Homo sapiens: one gene and its partners. The protein of the gene in region 2 interacts with the protein of the main gene of each other region in a biochemical or structural test. Each region holds a gene or a part of one and is shown on either strand. Other genes may lie near its edges.

The links.
Region 1: the proteins of FAT3 (region 2) and HTRA4 interact in a test that uses a peptide from one of them, tested with the Homo sapiens proteins (one large-scale study listed by IntAct).
Region 3: the proteins of FAT3 (region 2) and DLG2 interact in a test that uses a peptide from one of them, tested with the Homo sapiens proteins (one large-scale study listed by IntAct).
Region 4: the proteins of FAT3 (region 2) and PDZK1 interact in a test that uses a peptide from one of them, tested with the Homo sapiens proteins (one large-scale study listed by IntAct).
Region 5: the proteins of FAT3 (region 2) and PARD3 interact in a test that uses a peptide from one of them, tested with the Homo sapiens proteins (one large-scale study listed by IntAct).
Region 6: the proteins of FAT3 (region 2) and RAPGEF6 interact in a test that uses a peptide from one of them, tested with the Homo sapiens proteins (one large-scale study listed by IntAct).
Region 7: the proteins of FAT3 (region 2) and CARD11 interact in a test that uses a peptide from one of them, tested with the Homo sapiens proteins (one large-scale study listed by IntAct).

The regions. Positions count from the first base shown.
Region 1 is NC_000008.11:38,976,715-38,981,282, forward strand, and holds part of HTRA4 (serine protease HTRA4 precursor), read left to right. Parts: coding exon 1-25; intron 26-1,238; coding exon 1,239-1,433; intron 1,434-2,500; coding exon 2,501-2,533; intron 2,534-3,244; coding exon of another isoform or gene 3,245-3,277; exon of another isoform or gene 3,278-3,771; intron 3,772-4,568. UniProt on the Homo sapiens protein: Serine protease.
Region 2 is NC_000011.10:92,349,513-92,354,080, forward strand, and holds part of FAT3 (protocadherin Fat 3 isoform 1 precursor), read left to right. Parts: intron 1-2,583; 5' UTR 2,584-2,600; coding exon 2,601-4,568.
Region 3 is NC_000011.10:83,460,556-83,465,123, reverse strand, and holds part of DLG2 (disks large homolog 2), read left to right. Parts: intron 1-3,030; coding exon 3,031-3,122; intron 3,123-4,568. UniProt on the Homo sapiens protein: Required for perception of chronic pain through NMDA receptor signaling. Regulates surface expression of NMDA receptors in dorsal horn neurons of the spinal cord.
Region 4 is NC_000001.11:145,675,574-145,680,141, forward strand, and holds part of PDZK1 (Na(+)/H(+) exchange regulatory cofactor NHE-RF3), read right to left. Parts: intron 3,073-4,568; coding exon 2,876-3,072; intron 641-2,875; coding exon of another isoform or gene 585-640; intron 1-584. UniProt on the Homo sapiens protein: A scaffold protein that connects plasma membrane proteins and regulatory components, regulating their surface expression in epithelial cells apical domains.
Region 5 is NC_000010.11:34,360,051-34,364,618, reverse strand, and holds part of PARD3 (partitioning defective 3 homolog), read left to right. Parts: intron 1-4,359; coding exon 4,360-4,548; intron 4,549-4,568. UniProt on the Homo sapiens protein: Adapter protein involved in asymmetrical cell division and cell polarization processes. Seems to play a central role in the formation of epithelial tight junctions. Targets the phosphatase PTEN to cell junctions.
Region 6 is NC_000005.10:131,624,631-131,629,198, reverse strand, and holds part of RAPGEF6 (rap guanine nucleotide exchange factor 6), read left to right. Parts: intron 1-4,568. UniProt on the Homo sapiens protein: Guanine nucleotide exchange factor (GEF) for Rap1A, Rap2A and M-Ras GTPases. Does not interact with cAMP.
Region 7 is NC_000007.14:2,945,614-2,950,181, forward strand, and holds part of CARD11 (caspase recruitment domain-containing protein 11), read right to left. Parts: intron 2,175-4,568; coding exon 1,962-2,174; intron 1,475-1,961; exon of another isoform or gene 984-1,474; intron 344-983; coding exon 206-343; intron 1-205. UniProt on the Homo sapiens protein: Adapter protein that plays a key role in adaptive immune response by transducing the activation of NF-kappa-B downstream of T-cell receptor (TCR) and B-cell receptor (BCR) engagement.

The DNA of each region.
Region 1 (4,568 bases), on a different chromosome or scaffold from region 2:
TGCGGTGATTAAGATTGAATCAAATGTGAGTATTTCAGGGCTGAGTCAGAGTCTACATATTTGGGGATTTTTATCTATTTGCTGATATTTTCTGCCCCACTACACTCTCACACCACATCTTTTCTGTTGAATATATGCTTTTCTCTGGTTTCTTTCTGTTCTTTACTCCCTCTTTTATTTATTTGCTTCAACGCCTTTCTGTATATCCCTAACCGTTTCTTTCTTTTCTTTCTTTTTTTTTGAAACAGTCTCCCTCTGTCACCCAGGCTGGAGTACAGTGGCTCAATCTCAGCTCACTGCAACCTCTGCCTCCTGGGTTCAAGTGATTCTCCTGCCTCAGCTTCCTGAGTACCTGGGATTACAGGTGCCTGCCACCACGCCTGGCTAATTTTTGTACTTTTAGTAGAGACTGGGTTTTACCATGTTGGCCAGGCTGGTCTCGAACTCCTGACCTCAAGTGATCCGCCCGCTTCGGCCTCCCAAAGTGCTGGGATTACAGGTGTGAGCCACTGCGCTTGGCCTCTAACTGTTTCTATTAACTATCAAGCAGTCTTTTTTTTTTTTTTTTCCTCCTTCAACAAATGCTGCTTCAGGGAAAATTATTTCTCTACTTGTCTTAGGATATCAGAAATTACTGCGATGGACTCAAAGTTGCTAAGGAATACTTTGAAGTCCTTCCTACACATAGTACTGGTAGTCTGCACATCACATATATTGACATGGTGTCTGAGAGCTTTTTAGAAGTTCAGAGTCTCAGCCTTTACCCAGATAGATGTGCTGACTCAGAATCTGCATTAACATAACATCCCTAGGTGATTTGCATGCACATTACAGTGTGAGAAGTGTCACCCTGGGTGATCTCCTTTCTGTTTGTGGCTTATTCACTTTGACTGTTAAGCTTTGAGCTGGAATGGTGCTGTGTAAATTCCTAATGTCAGTTTATGTTCATCAGTGACTTCACTGGCTGTTTACTAATAGTAATTTCTACAAAGTAATTGTTTTAGATCTTAGAAATGATCCTAGTCATCTTAACACTCAAGAGCTTCATGGTAGTTGGACTTTGAGGAAGAAGTAGAAGGCAATCATAGAAGCTGTGTGAGTGGGTGCTTCTCAGGTGGTAAGGGCCAAGGTGATAGAGACAGCGTCATATATGTGTTAGACACACACTTTGGTCAATTCTGATCGTGATTTGTTCTTTACCCTTTCTGTCCTCCCCATCCCTTTTTGGGCACGTGCAGGCTGAACTTCCTGTACTGATGCTGGGAAGATCATCTGACCTTCGGGCTGGAGAGTTTGTGGTGGCTTTGGGCAGCCCATTTTCTCTGCAGAACACAGCTACTGCAGGAATTGTCAGCACCAAACAGCGAGGGGGCAAAGAACTGGGGATGAAGGATTCAGATATGGACTACGTCCAGATTGATGCCACAATTAATGTAAGTCACTTAGGACAGAGGTGCCCAACCCATGGGCTGTGGACCAGTACAGGTCCATGGCCTGTTAGGAACTGGGCCGCACAGCAGGCTGTGAGCCATGGGCGAGTGAGAATGACTGCCCGAGTTCCACCTCCTGTCAGATCAGTGGCGGCATTAAATTCTCATAGGAGTGCAAACCCTATTGTGAACTGCGCATGCAAGGGATCTGGATTGCATGTTCCTTATAGAATCTAACTCATGCCCGATGATCTGAGGTGGAGCAGTTTCATCCCAAACCACCCCTCCGTCTGTGGAAAAATTGTCTTCCACAAAGCCGGTCCCTGTGCCAAAAAGTTTGGGGATTGCTGACTTAGGAGGCCTTTCCTCAGATCACACAATATTGGCAGTTCAGTGAGAAGAATATGTCAGAGTGAACTTTGGGGATGTCCAGGTTTGGTTGAATCACTGTGGGAGGAATGGAATGCCACTTTGTTAGAGTCTGTCTCGTTCGCTGTGATCGCTGGCATCCATGCTATTAGGTGGTCTGTTGTAGAGGTCACCCCTCCTGTAAGAAGGTGGTGGTCCCTTGGCCAGGCACGGTGGCTCATGCCTGTAATCCCAGCACTTTGGGAGGCCGAAGGGGGTGGATCATGAGGTCAGGCATTCGAGACCAGTCTGGCCAACATGATGAAACCCTGTCTCTACTAAAAATACAAAAATTAGCTGGGCATGGTGGCGGGTGCCTGTAATCCCAGCTACTCAGCAGGCTGAGGCAGGAGAATCACTTGAACCGGGAGGCAGAGGTTGCAGTGAGTCGAGATTGCGCCATTGCATTCCAGCCTGGGCAACAGAGTAAGACTCCGTCTCAAAAAAAAAAAAAAAAAATGAAGGTGGTGGTCCCACTGCTATAGTTCTTTACCTACACTGACTTTGGTATTGGTGATGATAGGGGCACAATTTTGCCGGCCTGGGGGGAATAGGAGCTTGGTGGGCTGCTTTTGGTAAACTGTTTTGGGAGCTATGTGTAAAGGACAAGGGGGAATGTATTCATTAGCTTCACTGATGTCTTTTTCAAATTCTGCTTTTAGTATGGGAATTCTGGTGGTCCTCTGGTGAACTTGGTAAGTGATCACTTTCCTTGTTGCTTCATGTTTCTTCTTAACTTTCAAAGACTTTATTAATTCCAGGCCAGGGGTGGTGGCTCATGCCTGTAATCCCAGCACATTTGGGATGACTGCTTGGGGCCAGGAGTTTGAGACTAGCCTGGGCAAGACAGCAAGACACCATATCTACAAAAACAAAAACAAAAAAGGACTTTACATATTCCATGATGCAGACTTGGGTGCCACTCTTGTGTAGAGAGCTGTGGAATGGTGCTTTTCTGTTCTTGGACCTTAAGTCAATAGTTAGAAAAAATTCAAGATTGTTATCCTGGTGTGTGATCTCATCCCACTGAGAACACTAGGGTTCTAGCTCCGGCTTCCTTTGAAATTTCTCTCTTCCCCGTGCTTTCTGTTTTCATTGGCTAGTTACCCAAAGCCCTGGATTTTATTTATTTATTTATTTATTTAATAGAGACGATGTCTCACTATGTTGCCCAGGCTGGTCTCAAACTCCTGAGTTCAAGTGATCCTCCTGCCTTGGCCTCCCAAAGTGTTAGGATTACAGGCATGAGCCACCATGCTGTGCCAAAAGCCCTGGATATTAAACCCAGGTTTATGCCAAATGACCAGCTTTGCTATGAAATGTAGGTCCTTGAAGACTCCTTGATGCTGCATATGAAGAACTATCTCTCATTTAAAAATGCTAATTACATAATGTCATCTGTCCAGGTTTTTAGTCTTGACCTCTTGACCTGCTTATAGATGAGAGAAAAGCCACAACCAGCACTCCTGACTTCAAGTGAGCTGCCTGCCTTGGCCTCTCAAATACATTGCCGTGTCATGTATTCTTAAATTGTATTCCGTGTCTCTAGTGGAAATGTCAGGGTTTCTAGTTGCCCAAATACATGTGAAAACCTAAGAGAGTGCAATGCTGTTTGACACATAGCATGTGATCATCCTTTCTGAGTCCCTTTGCACTGATTGCTTTTGGTTCCTGTTTAAATATTACATTTGCTTTTAGAATGAATTTTATGCAAAATGATTGTTTTTTTTTTTTTACTCATAGCATTGCATGTCATTTTTCTTTGTTTTGTTCCTGCCTTCTCCATTAGACAATGAGTTTACTAGAGCAGGGATGAAATGCAGAATTTCAGGCCATACCCCCGACCTACTGAATTACAATCTGTAGTTTAACACAATCAGAAATCTCTTTTCTGGCTGGGTACGGTGGCTCACTCCTGTAATCCCAGCACTTTGGGAGTCTGAGGTGGGTGGATCACCTGAGGTCAGGAGTTCAAAACCAGCCTGGCCAACATGGTGAAACCCCATCTCTACCTAACATACAAAAAAAAAAAAAAATTAACTGGGCATGGTGGCATGCGCCTGTAATCCCAGCTACTTGGGAGGCTGAGGCAGGAGAATCGCTTGAACCCGGGAGGCAGAGGTTGCAATGAGCCAAGGTTGCACCAATGCACTCCAGCCTGGGCAACACAGTGAGACTCCGTCTCAAAAAGAAAAGAAAAAAAAAAAGAAATCTCTTTTTTATCCTTTCCCATTACCTAAAAGGCTAAAGGAAGATGAGGTACATAAAGAGGAAAATATTTTCTACCTCATACCTTTAGCTTAGCAGAGCTTTGTTCCCTAAGGTCAATTTTGCTAATTCTCAGTGCAGTGTTACTGACAATCCCACAGCTTTTTACCTTTTCCATGTTTATTTTTACTTTTAAATAATAAAAAGGCAAATGCTCCTTGTCCTTCTACCTTTGTCAAAATACAAACTGTGGCTCACTTTTAAAGTCAATGTAACTTACTAAAGGAAAAAAATGAGCTTAAGTTTTTTTTTTTTTTTTTTTTTTTTTTTTTTTTTTGAGACGGAGTCTCGCTAGGTCGCCCAGGCCGGAGTGCAGTGGCGCGATCTCGGCTCACTGCAAGCTCCGCCTCCCGGGTTCACGCCATTCTCCTGCCTCAGCCTCCCGAGTAGCTGGGACTACAGGCACCCGCCACCAGGCCCGGCTAATTTTTTATATTTTTAGTAGAGATGGGGTTTCACCAT
Region 2 (4,568 bases):
CTGCTAGGTAGGACATTTGAACCTACTGCATCCAGAAAACCCCAAATGTATCATTTTCTTAATAAAGTTTCCTTTGAAATGACCAGCAGCCCAGTGATGTCTTTCTAGGAACTTACTGAGCAGGGTCACCAGCGGCCATCTGACTTGGTCCCTGCCCTAGTTACCAGAGCTGCTGTCCACAGGCTGCCTGTTCCACTTACTTAGCATATGCAATGTCTCTAAAGAACTGCATGTGAAATTAACTTCCTTTATAGACGCTTACTCCCTTTTTCAGCTTTTCATTTTTGCTGTCTATTAATGCCTGTAAAGTCCCTAAATTAAACTTGACTTTTTCTATCTGTAACTCCATGTTTTCTACGGGATACTTCAGCAAATGATAGCAGCAAGATATCTTACATTCCCAGGCAGAACCAGCATTTGCATGCTCAGGGTTTCACTTCAGGAGAGTCTCCTGTAAGGTGGAGCTGAAAAAAAAAAAAAAAGAAAAGCCTTGTGGGGTATGGAGAGAGCCTGAGCTCTAATCTAGAGTCTGCTAGACTCTATCAATGACTATTAAATTTAGACAGTTTCCACAGTTTCATGACTATGTGGGTTAAAAGGTAAAAACTTTTTCCTATTTTAGCCAGTAAAATTAATCAAGGAGAGGGGAGAAAGGAGGTATTCAACAAGAAAAAGTTAAGTCTATTTAGACTTAACTAATAAAGTCGAGATAGGAAAATGAGGTTTTATATTATCATTAACAAAAAGGTTATAATAATATGTGCCTTGCTAACCTTGGATATGAAAGGGTTTTATAAACCATACAATTTGTAATATTTTAATATGTTAAACTCCTGTAGGGATTTTTTTTTTTTTCAGTTTGCAGCCAATAACTAGAACTACATTAAAACCAGAGAGGAGATAACCAAAAAGATATGCTGGGGGCAGGGATGGGTTGTACTTTTTAAAATCAATGACATATGTTGACTATTTCATTAGAATTAAATTATGTCATATATGCTTCTAGGATCCTTAATTATTTCATTCTTGCTTGCAGGTAATTTTGAGAGAGTGATTGTGTGATGGGGAAAAGCATGGATTTTAGAGAAAGATTAAGGTCTGAGATCCTGCTTTACTACTTGCCGGCTGGGGAACATTGTTTGGGCAAATGTCTCAACTAAATAGATTAACTTCTCTGACCCTCAGTTTTCTAATATGTCATTGGGTAAAATAGTACCTATTACTTAGGATTATCATGAAGATTAAATACAACAAAGTGGAAAAATGACTGACACAGTGCCTACATCATTACATGCCTGCAAAGAAATTCATTTTCCATCTCCTCTCATCTTCACGTTCCCTGTAAAGGAAGAAAAGGAGAATGTCAAGGGCTTGCAGAGTATAAGACTGGATGGAAGAACTCATATTTGGGGGTTCTAAAAATCTGATCCTTTGGGTATGAATAGACTTAACTTTTTCTTGTTGAATACCTCCTTTCTCCCTTCTCCTTGATTGATTTTACTGGCTAAAATAGGAAAAAGTTTGTATCTTTTAACCCACATAGTCATGAAACTGTAGAAACTGTCCAAATTTAATAGTCATTGATGAAAGTAATTGGAAGTATCTCTTGTAATTTCTAAAGTTTTTCTTGCAAGTAATCACTCTTACCTCCCTTGTTCTGAATAGTTCTGGATATCACTCCAGTCATATAACTCCTTAGGGATTATTGTCTCTGCTTTGTAACTTGACACTTTGTTCATTCTCATGGCATTGCATTATTCATAAACCTTGATCAGTTTAAAAGTAAGCACAATAAAAGATGGTAATACCTTGAAGCATTTTAAAAAGATTATAATTATAAAAGTAATTATGTAACTATTGATGAACAATGTTCATTGAAGAAAAGTTAGAAAATGCAAATATGCCACCAAATCCCAAAACACAGTTAATCCTTTTTAAATATAAAAATTCATTTGCACATATAGGTGTTTATATAATAATAGAACTCATGCTATATATACTGTTTGATGACCTTTTTTCCTTAGCATTACATCTTACTGCATCTGAAAATGCACATCTTTTATGTCTCTATTTTTAATGACTGCATAATATTTTATTTTATGAATACACCATGAATTATTCAGTCCTCTATTGATAGGCATTTAGCATCTCTTCATTTTTTTTTTACTTTAAACTGTGCTATAACAGATAATTGTCTAAATGTTTCTATAGGATAATTACTGCAAAGGCAGTTCTAAGTCAAAGGTAAATGCACTTAAGGCTTCCAATATATCTCTAAATTGACCTTCAGAATGTAAGAAATCTTGTACCAATGAACAACGCTGTCAGTAGTATAAAAGTGTTATTTAAAACAAAGTGTCACTTGAAAACAATTCTTACAAGATTGGGCTAAATTCTAGTAATCTTAAGTTCCTTATTACCTAGTAGTGGCAAGGTTTCTAATTTTTTCTTATATTGCTGTTTTAGTAAAAAGATTTTGTGATAAAGTTTTAAAAAGCATGGCTTCCTAATAGTTATTTCCCACTCTCCCCCTTCTTCTAGGATGGTTAATTTATCTTTTCTCTCTCTCTTTCTTCCCTCCAGGATGGAAGTATGATGTGATGGATATAATTATGGGACACTGTGTGGGCACACGGCCTCCTGCTTGTTGCCTCATCCTCCTGCTTTTCAAGCTTTTGGCCACTGTCTCCCAGGGGCTGCCAGGGACTGGACCCCTGGGCTTCCACTTCACACATTCCATTTATAATGCTACCGTGTATGAGAACTCAGCAGCAAGGACCTACGTCAACAGCCAGAGTAGAATGGGCATCACCTTAATAGATCTATCCTGGGATATCAAATACAGAATAGTGTCCGGAGACGAGGAAGGCTTTTTCAAAGCAGAGGAAGTCATCATTGCAGATTTCTGTTTTCTCAGAATAAGAACTAAAGGTGGCAATTCTGCCATATTAAATAGGGAAATCCAGGATAATTATTTATTGATAGTAAAAGGTTCTGTCAGAGGAGAGGATTTGGAAGCATGGACCAAAGTGAATATACAGGTTTTAGATATGAATGATCTGAGACCTTTGTTTTCACCCACAACATACTCTGTTACCATAGCAGAAAGCACACCTCTAAGGACTAGTGTTGCCCAGGTGACTGCAACAGACGCAGATATTGGTTCCAATGGAGAATTCTACTACTACTTTAAAAATAAAGTTGATCTCTTTTCAGTTCACCCCACGAGTGGTGTCATCTCCTTAAGTGGTCGATTAAATTATGATGAAAAGAATAGGTATGATCTGGAAATTTTGGCTGTGGACCGGGGAATGAAACTGTATGGGAACAATGGAGTGAGCAGTACTGCAAAGCTTTATGTTCACATTGAGCGCATAAATGAACATGCCCCAACAATCCATGTAGTCACTCATGTTCCTTTCTCGTTGGAAAAAGAGCCAACATATGCAGTGGTGACAGTTGATGACTTAGATGATGGAGCGAATGGAGAGATCGAATCTGTTTCCATTGTGGCTGGGGATCCTTTAGATCAGTTCTTCCTGGCTAAGGAAGGAAAGTGGTTGAATGAGTACAAGATTAAGGAGAGGAAGCAGATTGACTGGGAGAGCTTTCCCTATGGCTACAATCTCACTCTTCAAGCAAAAGACAAGGGATCTCCTCAAAAATGTTCAGCATTAAAGGCAGTCTACATTGGCAACCCCACAAGAGACACTGTCCCCATTAGATTTGAAAAAGAAGTGTACGATGTGAGCATAAGTGAATTTTCCCCTCCTGGTGTCGTGGTTGCTATAGTAAAATTAAGTCCTGAACCGATAGATGTGGAATACAAATTATCTCCTGGTGAGGATGCAGTGTACTTTAAAATTAATCCTCGGTCGGGTCTGATTGTTACAGCACGGCCACTGAATACTGTTAAGAAGGAGGTTTATAAACTGGAGGTGACAAACAAGGAAGGAGATTTAAAAGCACAGGTCACCATCAGCATAGAAGATGCAAATGACCACACCCCAGAATTTCAGCAACCACTGTATGATGCTTATGTGAATGAAAGTGTCCCAGTGGGAACCAGCGTTCTAACAGTTTCAGCTTCTGATAAGGATAAAGGAGAAAATGGGTACATCACCTATAGTATCGCTAGCCTGAATTTGTTACCATTTGTCATTAATCAGTTTACAGGTGTTATTAGCACAACTGAAGAACTGGATTTTGAATCCTCCCCAGAAATTTACAGATTCATTGTTAGAGCCTCTGACTGGGGTTCACCATACCGCCATGAAAGTGAGGTCAATGTGACTATTCGAATAGGAAATGTCAACGACAACAGCCCTCTCTTTGAAAAAGTGGCTTGCCAGGGAGTTATTTCATATGACTTTCCAGTTGGTGGTCACATCACAGCAGTCTCAGCGATCGATATCGATGAACTTGAACTTGTAAAGTACAAAATCATTTCTGGAAATGAACTTGGCTTCTTTTATTTAAACCCAGATTCTGGTGTTTTACAGCTTAAAAAATCACTGACAAATTCTGGCATTAAAAATGGCAATTTTGCCCTCAGAATTACAGCAACT
Region 3 (4,568 bases), 8.9 Mb from region 2:
TATAAAGAGTTTTTCCCATGGCTGGCACATGGAAAAATATGTACTAATGATAAAATAATGATTCTTAATATTATCATCCCCAATAGCATGTATTAAATTTCTCCTTGTATAGGATACTATGTCGGGCATTGCACAAAGTGAATTAAGCAAGTACAAATTTCATGATGTAAAATTGATTTATAATCTGTCAAGAGCCTCATAAATATAAGTAATGCTAACATTAATGAGAAGAAAAATAGTCCTTACTTCCTGGGAACAGCCATCTTAAAGGCCTGTTTCAGAAATAGAAAAATAAATCTTCATATTGTAAACACTCAGTGGGATAAATGGCTTCCCAGGGGAATGAGGCCTGAGGGAACGACAGCAGTGGCACATTTGGTCCGGTGCAATATTAGGAGACAGTCCCATCTGGCATTCCATAGGAGAAGGTCTACTGCCTTCCACAACTATGAGATGACTTATTTTAGTTATGCCTTAGGGCACTGTCACAGCCACTTATCACCAAGGAAAGTTAAATGTACTAAAGGCTGGACTTCACAATAAGGACAGTGAATCTGACATAATTTGCTGCAGCCATATTCATGGGTCTCAAGTGCAGTGATGGTGACATTCAGACCAATGCAATCTACCTACTAAAGGTTGGATGTTTACTTTACAGTTCACTCTTTTCCAAGGCTTTTACTCCAGGAGCAAAGCTGCCATGAATTGCCCATTCCCCAGAGAGTAGTGAATGCTAGGTCAGCCGGAACAAAAGCATGACAGCTGTCACATTTACACATTGATACATCATCACACACATTATTTCTCAAGTGCATCATCCACATCAAATCACAGAGCTTATTAGCACATACATAGCTGACTCTTCAGAGGAGCATAAAATCAAAGATGTGTATGAAAGGGATGTTCTTTTTATATTGTGCCACCATCTGACTTCTGTTCCCTTTCCATGTGGCAATCTCCCTTCACCCTGCCACTTCCAATCTGCTTTTACCTTCCTGCTCCCATGATGCTCTGTGTTTACTTCTGTCTTCAACTATCTTATAATTATGTTTATCTAGCTCCCCATTTGTTCATTCATTCATTCATTTACTCATCTATTCATTCAACAAATAAATGTTGAATCAGTCTCCATGCCACATGCTGACAAACAAGCCATGGTCTTCGCCCTCAAAGAATTACTGATCAGTCAAGGAGACAAAATAAATTCACAGGTCAGAGAATAAAAACCTAAACTAAGTCATTGCTGTAATCAGTAAAAAGGGAATTCAGAGAAGACAGAATTCTTGGAAGGCAGGTCGAAGATGATCCAGAACTATGTGATTTCTTTCTTTGAGACAGGGTCTTGCTCTGTCCAGCCCAAGCTGGAGTGTAGTGGTGCCATCATGGCTCACTGCAGTCATGACCTCGTGGGCTCAAGCCATGTTCCCACCTCAGCCTCCCAAGTAGCTGGGACTAAAGGTATGTGCCACCATACCCAGCTAATGTTTGTATTTTTTTTGTGGAGACAGGGTTTCACCCTGTTGCCCAGGCTGGTCTTGAACTCCTGAGCACAAGTGATCCACCTGCCTCAGCCTCCCAAGGTGTTGGGATTACAGACGTGAACCACTGTGCCTGGCCCACATGATTTCTTGACATCTGGAGCAAATATTTATCTTTCTCTGAAGAGTGTCCCTTGGTTTAGCCCAGCATCTTCTCCACCCACGAGTAACATCCATTCACAGCATGTACAGCTGAGACTGTTTGGAAGAAAAATTATACATAACACCCCTCAGGACAAGATGAGTTTAGCAACAAGAGTTCAGGAAATTCTCACTACTTTGTATTTCAGCCATTAATGTCTAATGTCAATATATTGTTTTTTTTTTTTCCAAATAGCCTCTTTTGAAAGATATCAAGTCTTGGTATAATAGGAAGTCTAACTGAAAATTGGTTTAAAAAACCAAAACCTTGAGTTCTTACCCCAGATTACTCTTCGTTAAATACACAGCCTTAAGCACATCCCTTCTTGCCTCTGTTACTTGCTCTCGAAAGGAATTGACTAAGGCCAGATGTTCCAGACCCAAATCTCTGGCTTCCTAAGCAGCATGCAAGACGGTAATGATTTCAGAAATTCTACATGCACCTGTGATGCATCCTGATCAGCCAACCAAATTGCATTTGGCAGGACATTTTTTTTTTAACACCTGGAAGACCCGGAAAGATAAAGCTGCCAGTAGTTAAGAATCAATAGATTAGGTTTTAGAGAGAATTCAAGAATTTTTCATTTCTCTCCCACCTTGATTTATCCTTGAGCCTTTTAAAAAAAATTTATATATAATAGTTGTACAAATTTTTGGAGTATATGTCATATTTTAATACCTGTATACAATGTGTAATGATCAAATCAGGGTAACTGGAATATCCATCACCAGAAATGTTTTGGGAACATTACAGTTCTTCTCTTCTAGCTATTTTGAAATATTCCTATAACTGCATTTTATACCCCTTAACCAGCTTCTCTTCATCTCCCCTCCTGCCTTCCCTTCCCAGTCTCTGATAACTACCATTCTACTCTCACATTTCAGAAAGTCTGAGATACACTAGAACAAACTCCAAGAAAGGGTGGTCAGGAAAGTTCAGATTTAGAAATCACATCCAATGAGGGGATAGATGAAGCAATAGGACAGTTTATTCTGAAGAAGTAGAAGCCTCAAGACACACTTAAGCACTTTACTTAAATATCCTAGGGCCTACCATGGAGGATATTAGGTCCCTGCAGAACAGGGACCAGTGACTACAAATCATAAGGAGACATATTTGGCTTCAATCCAATGTGGGACCAAGAGACTGCCCTTTGAGAGAATGAGCTTTCTGGCCGTGAGTCCTTGTTGCTGAAATTATTCCAGCACAGAGGAGTCCTGAATGAAGACTAAAAACCTGTTGCTAAGATTACACTATGTTTTCTGTAGGATTTATTTTTGCCATACATTTTAATTTTTTAGGATTTGGAATATTCCCTTTATGTTCTAATACAAACCCTCATTTTCCCAGGGAGATGAATAAGCGTCTAACAGAGGAACAAGCCAAGAAAACCTATGATCGAGCAATTAAGCTAGAACAAGAATTTGGAGAATATTTTACAGGTAAGTTCACTTTTACCCTGGTAGTGTGAGAAAGGGGATAAATTGTCTGACATTTGGCACAGAGAGGGTTCTGGGCCTGGTGTACTTGTGCCCTAAAACCTTCCTGTTGAGAATCCCTAATATCTGTTTCATATACAAGGAGTATCCCTCTGCTTCACCCATTTTGATGTAAAACCCTGGGTTCTCCTGAGAGTTCAGCTGCAGCCAGCTCCCAGGTTCCCACCAGCCCTACCCAAAACCATGGGCAGGAGATACCCCTGAGCTATCTCCTACCATGAAAAGGATTTGAGGCATTGCTACCTCATTAAACTATCTCCCTGATATCATCAGAAAACTTGAAAAACAAAATTTTAGGGCTCAAAATGGTCAGTGTCCAAAGCAGTTACTCTTGAGAAGAAGCTTGGAGGCGTCCGTCCCCAGCTCCATGAGCTTTCATCAGTGTCCCTATCAGCAGCACCTGAACAAGATGCTTAAAACTTCCTCATGTTTCAGTTCACTGTGTCAAGTCTCAACCAAAACTGCTTTTTTTTTCTTTTTAAATGTTTCCTTGGAAACATGAAGGGGAATAGAGGTTTTCTTCTGGAGAGCCTGAGTTCTGAGTTCTGTATTCCTATATACTTTCATAGAACACTGAGTAATCAGACTTTGTGAAATTTGCCTTACACCTGGTTCCCGGAGGTTTAAAAACAAGAACTTTCGAGCTGGGCTTATGCCTCTAATCCCAGCACTTTGGGAGGCTGAGGTGGGTGGATCACCTGAGGTCAGGAGTTCGAGACCAGCCTGGCCAACATAGTGAAACCCCCGTCTCTACTAAAAATACAAAAAATTAGCTGGGTGTGGTGGCAGGCACCTGTAATCCCAGCTACTAGGGAGGCTGAGACAGGAGAATCACTTGAACCCAGGAGGTGGAGGTCGCAGTGAGCCGAGATCGTGCTACTGCACTCCAGCCTGGGCAACAAGGGTGAAATTCTGTCTCAAAAAAAAAAAAAAAAAAAAAAAAAACCCAAGAACTTTCTTCCTGGATTACCATATGTGAAGTTAGATGTTTTATTTTTTACCTTATTCAGAATATAGAAAGTGTCAGTGCCTTAGCAGTTTGTAAATATCTTGAATCAGGTAATATTAAGTAATCTTTCTGTCAGTAACCAAGATACGAGCTGTGTTTCATCCTAAAAGAACATCCAGGTAGGAGAAACAAAAGTGTACATTTTGACAGTGGTTTATATTTTGTATACAATACAATAATATATTCTGAGGATTGTTTTTAAATATCTAAATCATCTTTCAGTAGTAATTTATTTTTAAGACCTAGTGTCATATGGATAATACTGATGTGTTTTGGAAATCTTTCTACAAGATAACTTTTGTTCAAATGAGACAATAAAATGTACTTAAATCTACTCCAAGTGACTTAGTGTTTTAGGAGATACACAACTGAGCAGTTTG
Region 4 (4,568 bases), on a different chromosome or scaffold from region 2:
ACAATGGAGCCTTTCTCTTTAAAATATGGAAAATTATCAGGTGACTCATTACATGCAAAAATACGTCTGATAACACTACCCAAACAAGCAAATCAACTGTATCTGACAGTCGCAGCTCATCTCGAGGCAAAGTGCAATAACATTAAAACACTTGAGATTTTGGCCGGGCTTGGTGGCTCATGCCTGAAATCCCAGCACTTTGGGAGTACAAGGTGGGCGGATCACTTGAGGTCAGGAGTTCGAGACCAGCCTGGCCAAAATGGTGAAACCTCATTCTCTACTAAAAATATAAAAATTAGCCAGGTGTGGTAGCACACACCTGTAGTCCCAGCTACTTGAGAGACTGAGGCAGGAGACTCACTTGAACCTGGGAGGCAGAGGTTCCAGTGAGCTGAGAACATACCATTGCACTCCAGCTTGGACAACAGCGGGAGACTCTGTCTCAAAAAAAAAAAATGAGATTTTATTCATGCTTCATTCAGATAATTGGGTGTCTAGTATGTGCCAGGGACTGCTAGAGGGTTGTGTTTTACTCACTGATGTATCTCAAAGATCTACCCTCCACCCCAACCTACAGGGCTTACTTTGGAGAGCGGGGAAGGAGATGATGAGGGCAGGCTTCTTTTTCGATCAAAGTTCTCTATTAACCAAAACAGAAAAATTACAATTAAATCATTCTATGATAAGATCAGGAGGGGTCAGAATCCCCTTTACAACAAACAGCTGCAGCAGCCGCCTCTGATTTCTGCTTGACTTTCCACCAACTGCAAAATGACTCATCATTTCTGGCAGCTTCAGTTGGTTCTTAAGCCAAAAGCTAGCTCCCTATGGCTTCTCTGGTCCTGTTGTGCCCCATAGGACACCTTAAAAAAAATGTGTGGCCCGGGCGTGTTGGCTTATACCTGTAATCCCAGCACTTTGGGAGGCCGAGGCGGGCGGATCACAAGGTCAGGAGATCGAGACCATCCTGGCCAACATGGTAAAACTACTAAAATACAAAAAATTAGCTGGGCATGGTGGTGCGCACCTGTAATTCCAGCTACTCAGGAGGCTGAGGCAGGGGAATCGCTTGAACCCGGGAGGTGGAGATTGCAGTGAGCTGAGATGGCACCACTGCACTCCAGCCTGGTGACAGAGCAAGACAACGTCTCAAAAAAAAAAAAAAAAAGTGTGCTCCTTCTTACATGTAATAGCCTTTCAAATTCTTGAAGATGCTCTCTTCTCCAAAGCCTTACTCAAGCTAAATACTCACATGGTGGCTTCCAAAACCTCTTCCCTGGTTACCCTTGTCATTGCCTTCTTAAAGTGAAGTTCTTGAAACCGGACACAATATTGATTGAACAAATAGAACATTTAGATGTGTGAGGCATTATTCTACATGCTCTGAATATTCCAATTCAACCCTCATAGCCACCCTTCGCTGTAGCTACTACCCCTCTCTTACAACTAAGGAAACTGAAGCACAGAGAGAGGTGGTAACTATATTACCAGGTATTCCAAGTATGGTCTGACCAAGTAAGTACAGTAAGATGGTCATCTCTAGAAGCCAAGTGTCTGTCAGTTAATTTTTAAATTACCATATTTGGATGGGGCAACCACTTGGACTATGAAGTTTCTGGTCTTTTTCTGTAGTCCTCAAATCAGGTCTCACCATGTGGTATTCATACAATTTACTTTTAGGTTAGTATAGTACATCTGAAATTTATTCTTATTTCTTTAGTTTTCATTCTTTCTATCCTAACTAAATATTTTGAGTATTAATTACACCATCCAGCAAATGAATTATCTAGTGCCACTTTAAGTATGTTAATATATTTTCCATATCTCCTTTCAACTTTAAGCACATAAACGGTTAGGAACAAGTAGCATGCCATTAGAGACTTCTATTCAAGTTGATATTCAGGTTGATATCAAGTATTTTCTAGGTATGATTGTTCAAGTAGCTAAAAAAAAAAAGCCATTAATCTAATTAATTGTTTAATCCTGCTTACAAGATTATCTTGAAAAAATGTGCTGGGGAGTATGGTATAATGAATTACGGGTCCAAGAATTTGGGTTCAGATACCACCTTCAGTCTTTACTAAGCTGCGTGACTTTAGCAAAGTGCTTAGTCTCTCTAAGCTTCGGTTTCCTAATCTATGAGGAGGGCCTAAGATATCACCACCCATCATATTCCCCCCTCTGTACCGCTTATTTTAGATTCTACTATCATTGTATATCACAGAGGACATTTATCTTGTTCATCTTTACAATCAACACTTAGCAAGACAGATGGTACTTAGAAGGCCCCCCAGGTTATCTGTTAAACTAGACAACCTCAGTTCTTGTGTTAAAAGTAAAAAAAAAAAAAAAAAAAAAAAAAAAAACCTTAAAACATGCAGTAGTGGGTGTTATGATAAAGAGCTGTTAAGAGAAAATAAAGTTAGTTTGATTCAGGTTGGTCTTGGTCTATCTGTGTTTCTTTTTTATTTGCTAAGGGCTTACAAGTTGTTTAATAATCCTTTCTAGGCTTTTATGTGCAGTTGATAGCACTTAACTGACCTAAAGCTTAAAATCTAATTGTTTCCTATTTTGGGAACAATTTTATTTCCAGGCTTATATTCTCCATAGATTTTCTCAGATCACCAAGAGTAAGCCTGCAGTTATATTCACAAATTCTTTCAAAATCTTAAGACCAAGGACTTAAAACTCATTTATCAATCATTTGGCATTCTCTTATCACTACCAATTTGAGTTGAGCTTCAGTTTAGCCTTAATGATGATTGTTATGCCTCTTCCAGTTTGAGGAACAAAGTCCTAACTCAGTGCAAAAGTTGAGGTCATGAGTGAATGGGCCCAGCCTTAATGCATGAATATATGGCCTTGTATTACTTACCAGTCTGTACATGTTGTCCGTCTCTTTGTCTACCACCAACAGTGAAGTCTGATCTCCACCCTTTCTAATCATTTCTACCACACTGTCATGATCCAGGGTTTCCACAGACTCGCCGTTGACAGCAACTACCAGATCATTGTTCTTCAAGCCAGCCTCCTCTGCTGGACTTCCAGAATCTATGTCCTTGATGATTTGACCTACCCTCCCCCAACCCCAAAAAATAAAATTATCAGTAAGTCCCCTAAAAAAATAAAACAGATTTTCTGCTGGAGCCCAAAGCCCTGATGAAACAGATAAAAAAGGCATGCTGAGTACAACTACCACCCCTTCCACCAGCATCCCAGGAAGCTTATAAGCACACTATCTAGGCTCGTTTCCTGCTCAGAACTCACCCCAGAAACTAACCCAGCAATTAACAATGAAGGGGTCTTAACGAAAATAATCCTGTTACTAAAAGCGTCTGACATTTGATTTTGGCAAAATAGCATATTAAAAGGCTGCAAGTTCCCAGAAAGTCAGTGGGCATACTTGTAGCCACGCGTCTTATGTAAAAGCTGTCATAAAAGATGGGGAAGAATAAAGAACAAAACCCAAAACTTTGGACCTTAAGAAACCCAGGCTGGCATTTTAGTAGCAATTGGGTGTGTTCGGTTTTGAATATATTTGTATATACATGCCTCCATGTGCTTTGGCCTTCTGGTATCTTCACCAGATGCTGCCTTTTTTTTTTTTTTTAACAAGTTCCTGTTTCACTTTTCCAGCTAGCTGCTGGGTATCTCCAACAAAATATCTCATAGATCTCTCAACTGTAATGTATTCAAGCCAAAAATCAGCTCTGCCCATTCTCCATCCCAAAGCCCCTCCTCTTGGTTACCTGTTAGTGGAGCAACATCATCCCAGTCACCAACACTTGGCAACTGATTCTTCCCCAGCATCCAGTCCCCATATCTAGACGATTGCTAAGTCCTCTGATGCTACCATAATACCTTACACATCCCACTTCCTCTACCCTGAATGCAGTTTGTATTAGTTCCTGCCTAGAATTCTACCTAAACTATTACAGCACCTTACCTACTGCTTTCCCTTCCCCAGTCCTTCTGTCTGATACAGATCTGCCTTCAGATCCATCTTGGTGCACATTCCTAACCAAGTCACTTCCTGGTGCAACAGAATGAGCATGGGCTTTGGAACTAAACAACTATTTGACCTTACATAATTACTGTATCTTCTCCAAGCCCTCAATTTCAGCAGTTCTTCTTGCATAATTGTTAGGAGTAATTGAGATGTGCAAAGCCCCCAAGACATTATAGGCTGGTTTTTGTTCTTCTCCCTTATACTGCTCAAAAAACAACTCCCCATTGTCTGATAAGCCAAGTTCAAACTCATCAGTCTTGCATAGAAGTCCCCTTGTCACCTCTCTCCAACCTACCTTTCCAACGAATTCTTGTACTACACATCATGTGCCAATTAAACTGTGCCAGTGTCTCCTGACTGTGTTCACATGATTCCCACCTTCCTGGAATGATCTTCCTTATCCCAGCTCTGTCTACTTTCCCAAATCTATTCATGTTACAAAGCCTGAACTCAAGTGCCACCCCTACTATGAGGGCTTCTGGTACCTTTTTAGTGAGAAAAGCTTACTCTAACGTTGAATTATCACAGTGCTTGATCTGCCCCTGTATGAAGGTACTTA
Region 5 (4,568 bases), on a different chromosome or scaffold from region 2:
CTACAAAAAAGAGAAAAAGTTAGTCAGGCTTGGTGGTGTGCCTGGGGTCCCAGCTAGCTACTTGGGAGGCTGAGGGCGGGATAATCACTTGAGTCCAGGAGTTCAAGGTTATGGAGAGCTATGATCATGCCACTGCACTCCAGCCTGGATGACAGAGCAAGACCCTGTCTTTAAAAAAAAAAAAGATAATTCTGTAGATAAGGGCAGATCTTGAGAGAGAGAAATTAATGATTTATAGTGGAGTGATGAAACTTTTGCTGAGTCACGTATTTTGTTACAAAGCCAAAAATCGGCTATTGAGCTCACTCCTATAATTTTATGGTCTTCTATCATTTGTGCACATTCCATGTTTCTTTTGCCTCTCTTCACAATATTTTGTACATTCTCATCCAAATTTTCGTTTGTTGCGGCTCAGAGATTACCCTTCCCATGATTGTTTTTCTGCTGCTTGACACAATCAACTCTTATTTCCTTTTTTATAGATAACACCTTTGCTGCAGATTAACTGTGGATTTGGGCCTATAGGCCAGCTCTATTCTCAGTTTTTTGGACTGTGATTTCGGGAAGAAGGAAAAGGGGGCCATGATGGTGCCCACTTGTGACTCTTTGTCTCACTGCAGATAGAAATGTACATCTTTTCTGCTGTTCTCTGGAGGGTGGGATAGTAAGTAGCTTTCACAATACCCATTCAGCAGGTTCCTTAGCAAAGGTGCCCTTTTATTCTGGGCATTTAAAGACAACAAATGGTAATGGAGAAATGGGCAAAGGAAGAACTGACAGGCTTTGTTGCTGAAAACAATCACTTGAGGTATACACACATGTATGTGCGTGAGGCAGGTGTGCTTGAGTGACATGACTGTGCCCAGATGACATGAGGAGTGAGTTAAAGAAAAGACATTTTTTGCGTTTCTGTAGAAAGATCTTAATTCGAGAAACAGTTGATAAGGTGCAGAATTTGGATGGAATAGCAAGGTGATAGAAAGTTAGTTTCTATTTTACATCAGAATATGGAGATTCCTATACTATCTGACTTTATGAACATTCTCAGTAATATAGCATTTCAAATGATTTTTGAAGAGCACAATTTTTAAAAAACATTTTTCTGCCAGAGAACTAAGTTCTAAAAGCTGGCATTAATTTCTGTCTATGTCAAAAGCCAAATGGATTAATAGTGGAATATCACATGAAACATACAATGTTTCACATCAGTGTTCTTAATGATAATAATGACTTAAGACTTGGTAAGAAAGCTGAAAAAGATTATTCCCATTCTGCAGTTGTTATAATAAATAAACTATCCCCTGGAGAATATGCTCTTCTTTAAAACAGGTTCAGAGTTCAGCAATCAGAAAATATTGCAACTTGATTAAAATTTTTCTTCATATATGCAGCCAGCTCCTTATCCTGATCTTTCAAGTAGGAAAAATATGAGAATTGTAAGCCTTGGTAAAATGTTATGGAAATGTAAAACTCAGTAAACACTGAAAAGGCAACTGAAGATTCAAATCAGAAAGTAACAATTAAGAACCTTCCAGAGTTGAAGCAAGTAAGCATAGTGAGTGATGAGACTTAGGTGTGTCCATAGAAAGAATATTCTTGTTTTCCATTTTTTCAAATGTAGCTTTTCCATGCTTATAAGTACTGATTGACAGAATAATTTTTTATTTCAGCAACCTCCAAATTTAAAGTCAAGGGGAACTATGATGTGTATTGATGTTGTTTTGTATTTTAAACATCAAAATTTACCGTACTTTATATTCTTGTAACAGATTTTATATTGAGGTAGTGCAGTTCATTCACACATAGTCATTATTTCGTACTCTGTAAATGTTTCAAGGGGCTGGGCACGTAAGCCCAATACTTTGGGAAGCCAAAGTGCGTGGATTGCTTGAGCCCAGGAGTCTGAAACCAGCCTGGCCAACATGGTGAAACCCCATCTCTAAAGAAATACAAAAATTTGCCCGGTTTGTTGACATGTTCCTGTAGTCCCAGCTACTCTGGAGGCTGCAGTGGGAGGATCACCTGAGCCTGGGGAGGTCAAAGGTGTAGTGAGTAGTGATTGTACCACCGCATTCCACCTTGGGTGACAGAGTGAGACTGTCTCAAAAAAACAAACAACAAAAACACTTGTTTTGAGCTACATGGACCAAAATAAAAAGTATATTGAATATTCATGTTTATAGAGCAAAGCATGTATATAAAGATACTTTTGTATCAAAGTATTTGATATATTTGATCTTTTTTTGCCCACAATACATTGGTTTTATTTGAGCTAAAATTGTTCTCTGGGAATATTTTATTTTATTTTATTTTTTGTTATGGGACAGAGTCTTGCTCTGTCGCCCAGGCTGGAGTGCAGTGGCATGGTCTCCACTCACTGCAAGGTCCACCTCCTAGGTTCACGCCATTCTCCTGCCTCAGCCTCCCAAGTAGCTGGGACTACAGGTGCCCGCCACCACGCCTGGCTAATTTTTTGTATTTTTAGTAGAGATGGGGTTTCACCATGTTAGCTAGGATGGTCTCGATCTCCTGACCTCGTGATCCACCTGCTTCGACCTCGTGATCCACCTGCGTCGGCCTCCCAAAGTGCTGGGATTATGGGCGTGAGCCACCACGCCCAGCCTGGGAATATTTTAAATCTAGTTTTTATGATGAGCAGGCTTAAGGCTTTATTTGGACTTTGATCATAAATGTATTTACTTTGCATAGTTAACATGACTATTACTCTGTATTTTTTCAGATTCTTATTTTGAGTTCTTCATTATATAAGTTTTAATTTTTTTTTTAACCCATTAGCAAGTTTATTGTAATTGAAGTGTTACTTGTCTTTAAAAACTATCAGGCCATCCTTTGAGATAGCACAAAGATGTCCTACCATAAAATGTTAACTTTACATATTTGTAAATTAGAAACATCACATTACTATGGGTCTAAAGATTTATAAATAGCATATTGCTTATTTTATGATGATCTAAAAAATTCACTTACAGATAGTGTACTCTCAAAATGTATTTTATCTAATTGAGACATCTGAGATTGCATGTTTATGCCCCAAATTCCTTGCATTCCAAATTTCCTTGAATTCCAAATTCCTTGGGTTGATTTTTATTCTTATTAGGACATTTTAAAAATTTGGTAGGATGCAGTCACCTACTTTTTTTGTGTTATTGAACATTCTGTAAAAGCACAATCTGTTTAAAGTATATATTCCTACATATCTGTGTACCACTGTATTTCTTATTCTTCAATTATAATTTGATAAGTCAAGCTTGAATGACTAAACAGATGCTGGAGAAATATTTCAAACGTGGGAAAAGAGGAGGAGAAATAGGTTGTAGGACTAGATGTGCCATTCAGTTTTTACTTGAAGAGCCTGTGCCACGTGTCTGTTATGTGGTTGGAGCAAGAGTTTGTGCTTGAACAAGCATCCTAGCCTTACTGATTTGGACATGACCAGTATAGAGATGGTGGAAATCTTGGTCATGGGCGGGATTGCTGAGGAGGAGGAGCTCAGAAGGCTGAGTGCTTCCTCTTCTGGAGTGTAGGCTTTCTTAATGATAGGCTGTCATCTTAATGCATTTTATTCAGTTCTACATTAAGCTTTCATTTCTTCCTCTGTTTTAAGGGAGGTGAACAATAATTTGTATATCCTAAATGTTTTTTATTTTAAAAAGTCTTCCTTCTATGCTTGGTGACTATGAAGTTAAATCTTAACTAATTAAACAAGATTACCTGAATAATATTTACCAGCTATATTATGTATGCTACAATATTGTGGAAAAGTTTTCTGTGATGTTGTATATCTCTACTTTGTCTCACAGATGTTGATGTTAGAATTCTTTAGAGGCTCTCTGAACCCATATACCTTTTTCTGCTGATTTTGTATGATCAGGATTTGTTATTTTTTGTGAATAAACACCATTAGTGAACATTAAATATATTGATAACTTCAGAATTTCCTCATAAAAAGGGAGATAAATGAATTATATTTATTTATTTTTACTCCCATTGTTACTGTTTTTCTTGTCGTTTAGAATATATGATTACACCAAAAAAATCCCGAACTCTAGAAATCTACTAGTCTTTAGTCCTTCCACTACATTTTCCCTCTATCTTTCTCAAATCTGATTTAAGTTTGGTTCAATATTGAATAATTGCTACATAAAAATATTAACAGCTGGTTCCAAGAATCTTCTGGAGTGGGTGCAGATGTAGTGTTTTCATGGATCTTGCTGTGGAACCTTCATGGAAATATTTTGCCTCTTATGATTAAGGAACTGCTCATTAGCAGTCTTTAAAAATAACTTTGAGAAAGAAACATTGGACTATAATGTGCTGTGCAATTTTGTTCCCTATTAGAAAGCAGAAGATGAGGATATTGTTCTTACACCTGATGGCACCAGGGAATTTCTGACATTTGAAGTCCCACTTAATGATTCAGGATCTGCAGGCCTTGGTGTCAGTGTCAAAGGTAACCGGTCAAAAGAGAACCACGCAGATTTGGGAATCTTTGTCAAGTCCATTATTAATGGAGGAGCAGCATCTAAAGTGAGTGTCAACTTTATCAT
Region 6 (4,568 bases), on a different chromosome or scaffold from region 2:
CCACAGATGGTTTTAATGGCATCTGGAATGATGAATCATTTCAAGACAGTTTTCAATTTTCTTTTCACAGATCTGTTAGGGAATCACTGTCTATGTCAGCTGTAGCTTTATGAAATGTGTTTCTTAAATAACAAGACTTGAAGGTTGAAACTTTTCCTTGATCCATGGGCCACAGAATGGATGTTGTATTAGCAGGCCTGAAAAAAATCACTAATCTCCTTGTGTACCTCCATCTGAGCTCTTGAGTGACAAGATGCATTGTCAGTGAGTAGTAGTATTTTGAAATGAATCTTTTTTTCTGAGCAGTGGGTCTCATCAGTGGACTTAAAATATTCATTAACCCATACTGTAAACAAACGTGCTGTCATTTAGGCTTTGTTGTTTATTTACTGAGCACAGGCAGAATAGATTTAACATAATTCTTAAGGGCCTTAGGGTTTTCAGAATGGTAAATGATCATTGGCTTCAACTTAAAGTCACCAGCTGCATTATCCTCTAACAGGAGTCAGCCTGTCCTTTGAAGCTTTGAAGCCAGGCATTGATTTCTCCTCTCTAGTTATGGAAGTCTTAGGTGGCATCTTCTTCTGATATAAGGCTGTTTTGTCTACATTAAAAATCTGATTTTTAGTGTAGCCACCTTCATTAATTATCTTAGCTAGATCTTCAGGATAACTTACTTTTTATGTTAGTGGAGGTGGCTTTTTTTCGTAAACTTCATGAACCAACTTCCACCAGCTTCAAACTTTTCTTCTGCAGCCATCTCATCTCTCAACCTTTTTAGAATTGAAAAGTTAGGGCCTTGCTGTGGATTAGGTTTTGGCTTAAGGGACTGTTGTGGCTGGTTTGATGGTTTATCTAGACCACTCAAACTTTCTCCATATCAGCAATAAGACTTTTTCACTTTTTTTTTTTAAATCATTTTTTTGTTCACTAAAGTAGCACTTTTAATTTTCTCCATGTGCCTTTTCTTTGCATTCACAACATGGCTAACTGTGTGGTGCAAGAGGCCTGGCTTTGGGCCGTTGTTAGCCTTCCTAAGTTTAATCATTTCTAGCTTTTGATTTAAAGTGAGAGATAGGTGACTCTTTTCACTTGAACACTTAGGGGCCATTGTAGGGTTATTAATTGGCCTAATTTCCGTATTGTTATGTCTCAGGGAATAGGGAGGCCCCAAGAGAGGGAGATAGAGAAGGTGGAACAGCCAGTGGAACAGTTGGAACACATACATCAGTTACGTTTGCCATCTTACATGGGCACAGTTTGTGGTGCCCCAAAACAATTACAGTAGTAACATGAAAGATTGCTGATCACAGGCCACCATAGCAAATATAATGAAAAAGTTTGAAATGTTGTGAGAATTACCAAAATGTGACACGGAGACATGAAGTGAGCATGTGCTGTTGAAAAAAATGGTGCTGTTGGACTTGCTTGATGCAGGGTTGTCATGAACCTTCAATTTGTATTTAAAAAAAAAGAAAACAACCCCACAATACCAGCCAAGCACAATAAAACAGAGTATGCCTGTACTTCTTTGCGTCATTATGCCAGAATTCCTTAAAGAAGCCACAGTCATAATTAGACCTTGAACTTGGCTGTTTCTCAGCTCAATCCACATTTAATACCATTCTTTATAACGTTCCTTTTTTTACTTCAGAATGAACTCCTTATATTTCCCTTAATGTTTATTTCCCTCTCAGTGCTTAATGCCATGATTTGCACATATTAAATGATGAATAAATATTTTACAAGCCAAAATTTGGAAATACATTTTGTAAAGTCATCATATGTTAAAAAGGTAGCACTTCGTATTCATTGGAACTGCTAACTTTTTGTTTCTTGGACAGTCTTACTCAGCAGCTTGGTTTCAGTTAGTTGTTATAGGCTAATGCCTCCTAGGATTATGTTTTCCAACTTATCCCCTAAATTTTATGTGCTTCAGCTTCATATATCAACCATCTTGTCCTCCAGGTTCTTCAACCACTTGTCCTAAATTGAGCCATCATTATTCCTCTTCCTTCATAATCTGTTGGCAGCTGGCCGAGTTGCTGTCTCTAGGAATTTGTATTATTTCTCTTCATTCCTCATAGATGCAACTTGCCACTAAACTTTGTCCCCTGAATCTTTTTATTTGCCCTTTTCTTACAAGTTTTACTACTCTAATTCAGTCTGTTTTATTGTTTCTACCCCCAAATTATTGCTTGAGTCATTGAGTCTTGCTGCTAGAGTGATCTTCCTCTCAGATCTGATTATGTTCTACTCTTGCTCAGAATTTTATTTCCTATATTTCCTAGGTATAGATTAACAATATGTTGTTCAAATCATTTTTGTGAATTAAAAGAGAAGCTGTTAATATTTATTTCAGAGTAACAGGTTAAAGAGGGACTGTCCCGCTTAAACTGAGATATGGTTACCTCACCCAGATGATAACATTAATTTGTACATTCATTTAAGAAATAATATATCTGATATATTAAAAACCAAGGTTGTAGAGAGGAGTTAGACATGGTCCCTATTCATCAATGACTTGGGAGACATAAGAAAACATAAATGTAATAAATGTTTTAGTTATTAGTGACAAAGGTATGAGTAGGGCTTTGGGATTGCAAGATGGGGAAGGGAACAAGCTTCATGGGGGAGCATTGAATTCCCAGTGTTAAATGTCATGAATTGATTTCTGGATGATCAAGAGAGGTCATTCCAAGCAGAGAGGCAGGAGCAAAAGTACTGATGATGGCAAGCCATGTATACTTGTAGAATAAGAAGCCAATCTGTAAGTCTAGAGCAGGCATTCCCGTTGGAAGTGATATCGCTCCCAAAGATGCAAAAATTGCCTTTTATGGGAGTGGGAAAAAAAATCACAGCTATTGGTATGGTTTGTGGCCCTCTAAAACTCAGCCCTAAACTGACAGTGTCTTATTCTTTAGTATTTAATTAGAGATGGGGCAGTGCTTACGAAAAATTGTCTGAAAGGTTCTTTGGGAGGGGATGAAAATGAAAAAAAGGTTGCAGAACACTGGGGCTAATGTCTAGGATGTTTGGGGATGATGGTACATGATGTGAGATGTTTAATGATGAAGCTGGACGTACTAGCAGGGTTTGGATAATTTCAGAAATTTGGACTCCATCTTATAAATAAAGGAGAAAGAACCGTTGCAGGGTTTAAAGCCTGGAAATAAGATCAGTTTTATAAAGACTACTATGTGAGCATTTTGGAGATGTAATTGAGTGGGGAGGAGCAGACTAGAGACAGGGAGGCTTATAGGTATACAGGTAGACTGGACATGTATTTTATCCAAACTGGGATATTTTCCATGTGAAAGGTAAGACTACTAGTGATTATACTAAGATAATATGGAAACCAAGAAGTATGGTTTTTTTTTTTTTTTTGAGACGGAGTCTCTGTCACCCAGGCTGGAGCGCAGTGGCGCTATCTCGGCTGACTGCAAGCTCCACCTCCCGGGTTCACACAATTCTCTTGTCTCAGCCTCCCGAGTAGCTGGGACTACTGCCGCTCGCCACCATGCCTGGCTAATTTTTTTGTATTTTTAGTAGAGACGGGGTTTCACCATGTTAGCCAGGATGGTCTCGATCTCCCGACCTCGTGATCCACCCACCTCGGCCTCCCAAAATGCTGGGATTACAGGTGTGAGCCACCGTGCCCAGCCACCAAGAAGTATGTTTTGTTGTTAGAAACAAATACAGTAGTTCAGGTGTGAGATAAGGTCCTGGACCCAGTGGTGGCAGCAGTTAAGTGGGATAGTGAGGTATTAAGGAGGTAGAATTGGCCCAACCTGGTCACTGGTTGGAAAGATAATTTCTCCTCCTCCCCCAGACTTTTTTGAAAAACTTTGAAATGAACTATAAAACATAAAGTCCATATGCCCTAAATATACATTGGCAGATGATTAATTTGTTTTGTTTGTTTGTTTGTTTTTTGAGACGGAGTTTCTCTCTTGTCTCCCAGGCTGGAGTGCAGTGGCACAATCTCAGCTCACCGCAACCTCTGCCTCCCGGGTTCAAGGGATTCTCCTGCCTCAGCATCCCAAGTAGCTGGGATTACAGATGCCTGCTACCACACCTGGCTGATTTTTGTATTTTTAGTAGAGACAGAGTTACACCATGTTGGCCAGGCTGGTCTCGAACTGCTGACCTCATGATCTGCCCGCCTCGGCCTCCCAAAGTGCTGGGATTACAGGTGTGAGCCACTGCACCCATGCCCGGCTACTTTTTGTATTTTTAGTAGAGACGGGGTTTCTCCTTGTTGGTCAGGCTGGTCTCGAACTCCCGACCTCAAGTGATCTGCCCGCCTCGACCTCCCAAAGTGCTGGGATTACAGGCGTGAGCAACTGCGCCCAGCCATTGCCAGATTAATTTTTACAAACATATTTTACTGTGTGTATCATGATACAGAATACAGATAAAGAATATTACCAGCACTCCAGAAATTTCCCCTTTTTCCTTCTCAGTCTCCCAAAGGAAACCACTCTTCTGGTTCTGTCATTGCAGATTTTTTTCTTTGTGCCTTTGAACTTAATTTGAGTGGAGTGTTTTTGTTTGTTTGTTTGTTT
Region 7 (4,568 bases), on a different chromosome or scaffold from region 2:
TCCTGCTTCCCTTTGCCCCTGTTAACCTTTCATCATCAAGCAAAATAAGTGGTTGACAGACCCCAGTTCTATATGTCATAGATTCACAGCTTAAGAACCATGCCACTACTGAGGACACACACACACACACACACACACACAGACACACACACACACACGCCCCTCCTCTTAGAGTCCAGATGTTCCCAATGGCAAAAGCACTTACCCACAATGGTGGAGAATCTCCGAGTGGGCTCTTTCCCAGTCACCAGTTTGTACAGTTCTGGGTAATAAAATTCTAGGCTCTCCAAGAAGACCACATAGCCCCTTTGCCCCTTGGTATGTAGAATGTCCAACAGCCGGCCTAGGGGAAAGACCAGATCACTCTGTGAGAATACATATCTGATGGAACGCAAGTCTCTGTGGCTGGTCTCATCCTGGACTTGTGTCCTTCAATCAACTCTAAGAAGACAGTCTCCCCACATTCTATCACTTCTGAGTTGTATCTTGGAGCCCAGATGACGTAAATCAAGGTGCCAGGCCCTCCGCAGGGATTTGGTGAGCGTTAGTTTTCTGTTTCTAATAAACTGGTAGAACCAGGATAAATGGAATTGCCGCCCCAGTTTTGAAGAGTTTCCCAACTGACCAGGGCCAAAATGAACCACGTAGGCACCAGGTCTTCTATGACTGAAGGAGGTTGGAAGCACGATAAAAATTATGGAATAATATATGGTTCTCTGGGATTGAGAGCAGGAAGACAAATCTTTGGGTGAGAGGCTAGGAAAAATCATAGGAAGTAGGGATAGTTCTAGGTTTTTCTTTGGGATTATTACACAACCTGGAAACACCTTAAATGTAATTTCCCCAGCAGGTCCCAGTTTCTATACTATTGATTCCACTTATTGCTTACATTTCTGGGCCCTTCCTTAAACATTTTATTTTCAGATATTCTTCTGAGATATAGAAGAAGAAAGGTAGGTCTTAAAACTCGACCTTTTCCCTAGGACGGACAGAAGAAATAAATTTGATGGTATGTCAACCCCGATTGTTTGGTGAAGCCGCCTGCAGTACTGTTTCGAGAAACATTCCAAAGTTACATCCAAGCTCAGTGGGAAAGCATGCTGATTACTGATGTCTGCCATGGATGCCAGAGAGTCGCAGCTGATGAGCCACTTACCACCAGCCACGCTGGGGGACAGTGATTATCAAACCTTCTAAACTGATCCATAGAAAGAAAAACATTTAACATTGTGGTCTAGTGACCATAGACAAAGATAACTCTACAAGTACATGTGTATACACATGTACATAATGTAAAATTAAAACAAGCTTCACAAACCATATTTATTACCTTTACTGAATATGATAAACCCCCCCTCCAGAAGTCAGGCTAGAAAAGCTTGTGGAACCCTTCTCGGAATATTTTTAAACAGATAAAGTACATCAGATTACAAAAGAAACCAATTATAATAAAATCCAGTTATCAAATATTAAATAAATTTGTGTTTCAGTAACATACTTCTTTATTAATGCATTAAATAACAAGACCTCTCGGCAGGTCTAATAAGTACTGTAATTTTGAAAGAGAGATGAGTGTAAGTGGCATTTTGAGAGATTTGCAGTAACTGTAGTGATAGGAAGAGATCTGTAATTTTCATTGTTGCCTAAGTCACAAGAATTACTAATCACTCCTGTAATTTGTGGCTTCCTGACATTTGCAATTGAGGGCAATGCTGAATTGCAGTTGAGGTTGGTAAAATAAAGATGGCATTTCTTCCCCCCTCCCAGTTTATGGATCCTTTGAGTTCCATACACAGACAGCTTGAGTTCTATACACAAATGAGTAGGTGATGGACTGCGGACCCCAGTTTAAAAATCCCTGACCTAGAGCAACTTCATTTTGGTACAGCTACCAAAGGGTATGTCTGGAAGTTGCCGTGTGCGGTAGCCCTCCCTCTCCCGCAAAGAGGTCCTAAGGTTACCTGCTCGGTTGATCTTGGATGGCAGCATAGGGGCATTAAGCACTTCATCTTCATCCTGCTCATCAATGACCTTACACTGACGCAGGTAGGGCGTGAGCTTGGCAGGGTTGATATAGCGGCTGAGCATGTGCCGGTTACACTCCACATTCTCCCACAAGGCGTCCTCTTCATCCTTCAGCGTCTCCATGTAGTCATCCATCTCTGGCCCTCCTCCTTTTAGACATAAACCCCAACAAGCTTAATAAAGCAGTCTCACTGGAACAGCTCTATCAACTCCTCTGGAGTGACCTCTAGAATATATTAAGTTAAAAAAAAGTCCTGTACACTAAAGTATATATAGCATTTTACCTTTTGTCTAAGAAAGGGGTTATGAATATAAAAATATATATTTCCTTATATGCTAAACATAAACAATGGAAGTTTAAGCCATCAATTTTAAAAAAGATTATTTATAGGGCAGAGAGGGAAAATCCTGCGGTTGAGTCTACCCTTTCCATCCAAGTTTTTATGTCTTACTAAAAATGTATAGTTCCCTAAACAATATATACTATTGGCTTTTGTTTTAAAATTTCACATAAATGGTGTCATACTGTACGTTTCCTTTTTCAGCATGTTTTTCTCCCTCTACATTTTTTTTTGAGATTTATCTAGATGGATACATATAGATCTAAGTCATTCGTTTTTAAAAATAGCTTTATTGTGATGTAATTCACATAGCATACAAGTTACCTTTTTAATATGTTCAATTCAATGATTTTAGTATATTCACAGAGCTGTGCAACCACCACCACAATCAATTTAAAATCATTTCCGTCATTTCAAAAAGAAGCTCCTCACCCTTTATTAGCCACTCTCAATTTCCCTCTAATCCCTGCTCCTCCAGCCCTGTGTAACCACTCGTTCACCTTCTGTCTGTATAGATTTGTCTTTTCCGTACATTTTATACAAGTGAAATCCTACAATTTATGGTCTTTCATGTCTGGCTTCTTTCACTCAGCAACTTTTCAAGGTTTGTTCCTGTTGTAGCATGTATCAGGACTTCACTTATTTTAAATTGCTCAGTGATTTTTTCATTGCATGGACATGCCCCATTTTGCTTGTCTGTTCATCCACTAATGGACATTTGAGTTATTTCTACCTTTTGTCTATTATGAACAATGCTGCTATGAACATTCATGTAAAAGTTTTTGTGTGACTGTATGTTTTTATTTCCCTTGGGTAGATACGTAAGAGTGGATTGTTAGGCCATATGGCAACTCTATATTTAACATTTTGAGGAATTGCCAAATTGTTTTCCAAAGCAGCTGCATCATTTTACATTGCCACCAACAAGCCATGAGGGTTTTAATTCCTCCATATTCTTGCTAACAACTTGTTATTGTCTGTCTTTTTTATTACAGCTCTCCTACTGAGTGTGAAGTAGCATCTCATTGTGGTTTTGATTTGCATTTCCCTAATGACTAACGATGTTGAGCATCTTTTCATGTGCATATTGGCCATTTGTGTGCATTGAGAAATGTCTATTCAAATCCTTTGCCCATTTTAAAATTGTGTTGTTTGTCTTTTTATTATTGGGTTGTAGGATTTTGTTATGTATTCTGGATGCAAGCCACTTATCAGATATATGACTTGCAAATATTTTCTCCCACTCTGTCAGTTGTCTTTTCACTTTCTTAAAAGCATTGTTTGTAGCACAAAAGTTTCAAATTTTGAGGTAGTCCAATTTATTTATTTTTTCTTTTTTTCACTTGTGCTCTTGGCATGTATCCGAAACACCATTGTCTAACTCAAGATGATGAAGACTTACTCCTGTTTTTTGCCTTTGAATATTATACCTTAGTTCTTACATTGAGGATGATCCATTTTGAGTTAATTTTTGTGTATGGTGTGAGGTAGGGGTCCAGTTGCATTCTTTTATGTGTGGATGTCCAGTTGTCCAAGCACAGTTTGTTTGAAAAGACTACTCTTTCCCCATTGAATGATCTTGCTACCCTTGTTGACAATCAACTGACCATAAAAGTAAACATTTGTTTTTGCACTATTGATTCTATTCCATTGATCTATATGTGTATCCTTATGCCAGTACTACATTGTCTTGATTACCGAAGATTTGTAGATTTGTAGTAGGCCTTGAAATTGGGAGTATGGGTCTCCCAACCTTGTTCTTTTTCAAGATTGTTTTGGCTATTAGGTGCCTTTTACCTAATTTTAGGATTAGGATGTCAATTTCTGCAAAAAAGGCAGTTGGCATTTTGGTAGTGAATCTGCTGAATATGTAGATCAATTTGGAGAGTACTGCTACCTAACAATATTAAATCTTCTGATCTATGAACAGGGGGATGTCTTTCTTTAAATCTTCTTTAATTTCTTTCAGCAATGTTTCATAGTTCTCAGTGTACAAGTCTTGCACTTCTTTTGTTAAATATATTCCTAAGTATTTCATTAATTTGATGACATTATAAATGGGAGTTTTTTTCTTAATTTCATTTGTGGGATATTCATTGCTGGTCTATAGATATATAATTTATTTTTGTATATTGACCTTGTATTCTGCAACCTTGTGAAATCATTTATTAGTTCTGTTAGTTTGTTAGAGACATCTTATGA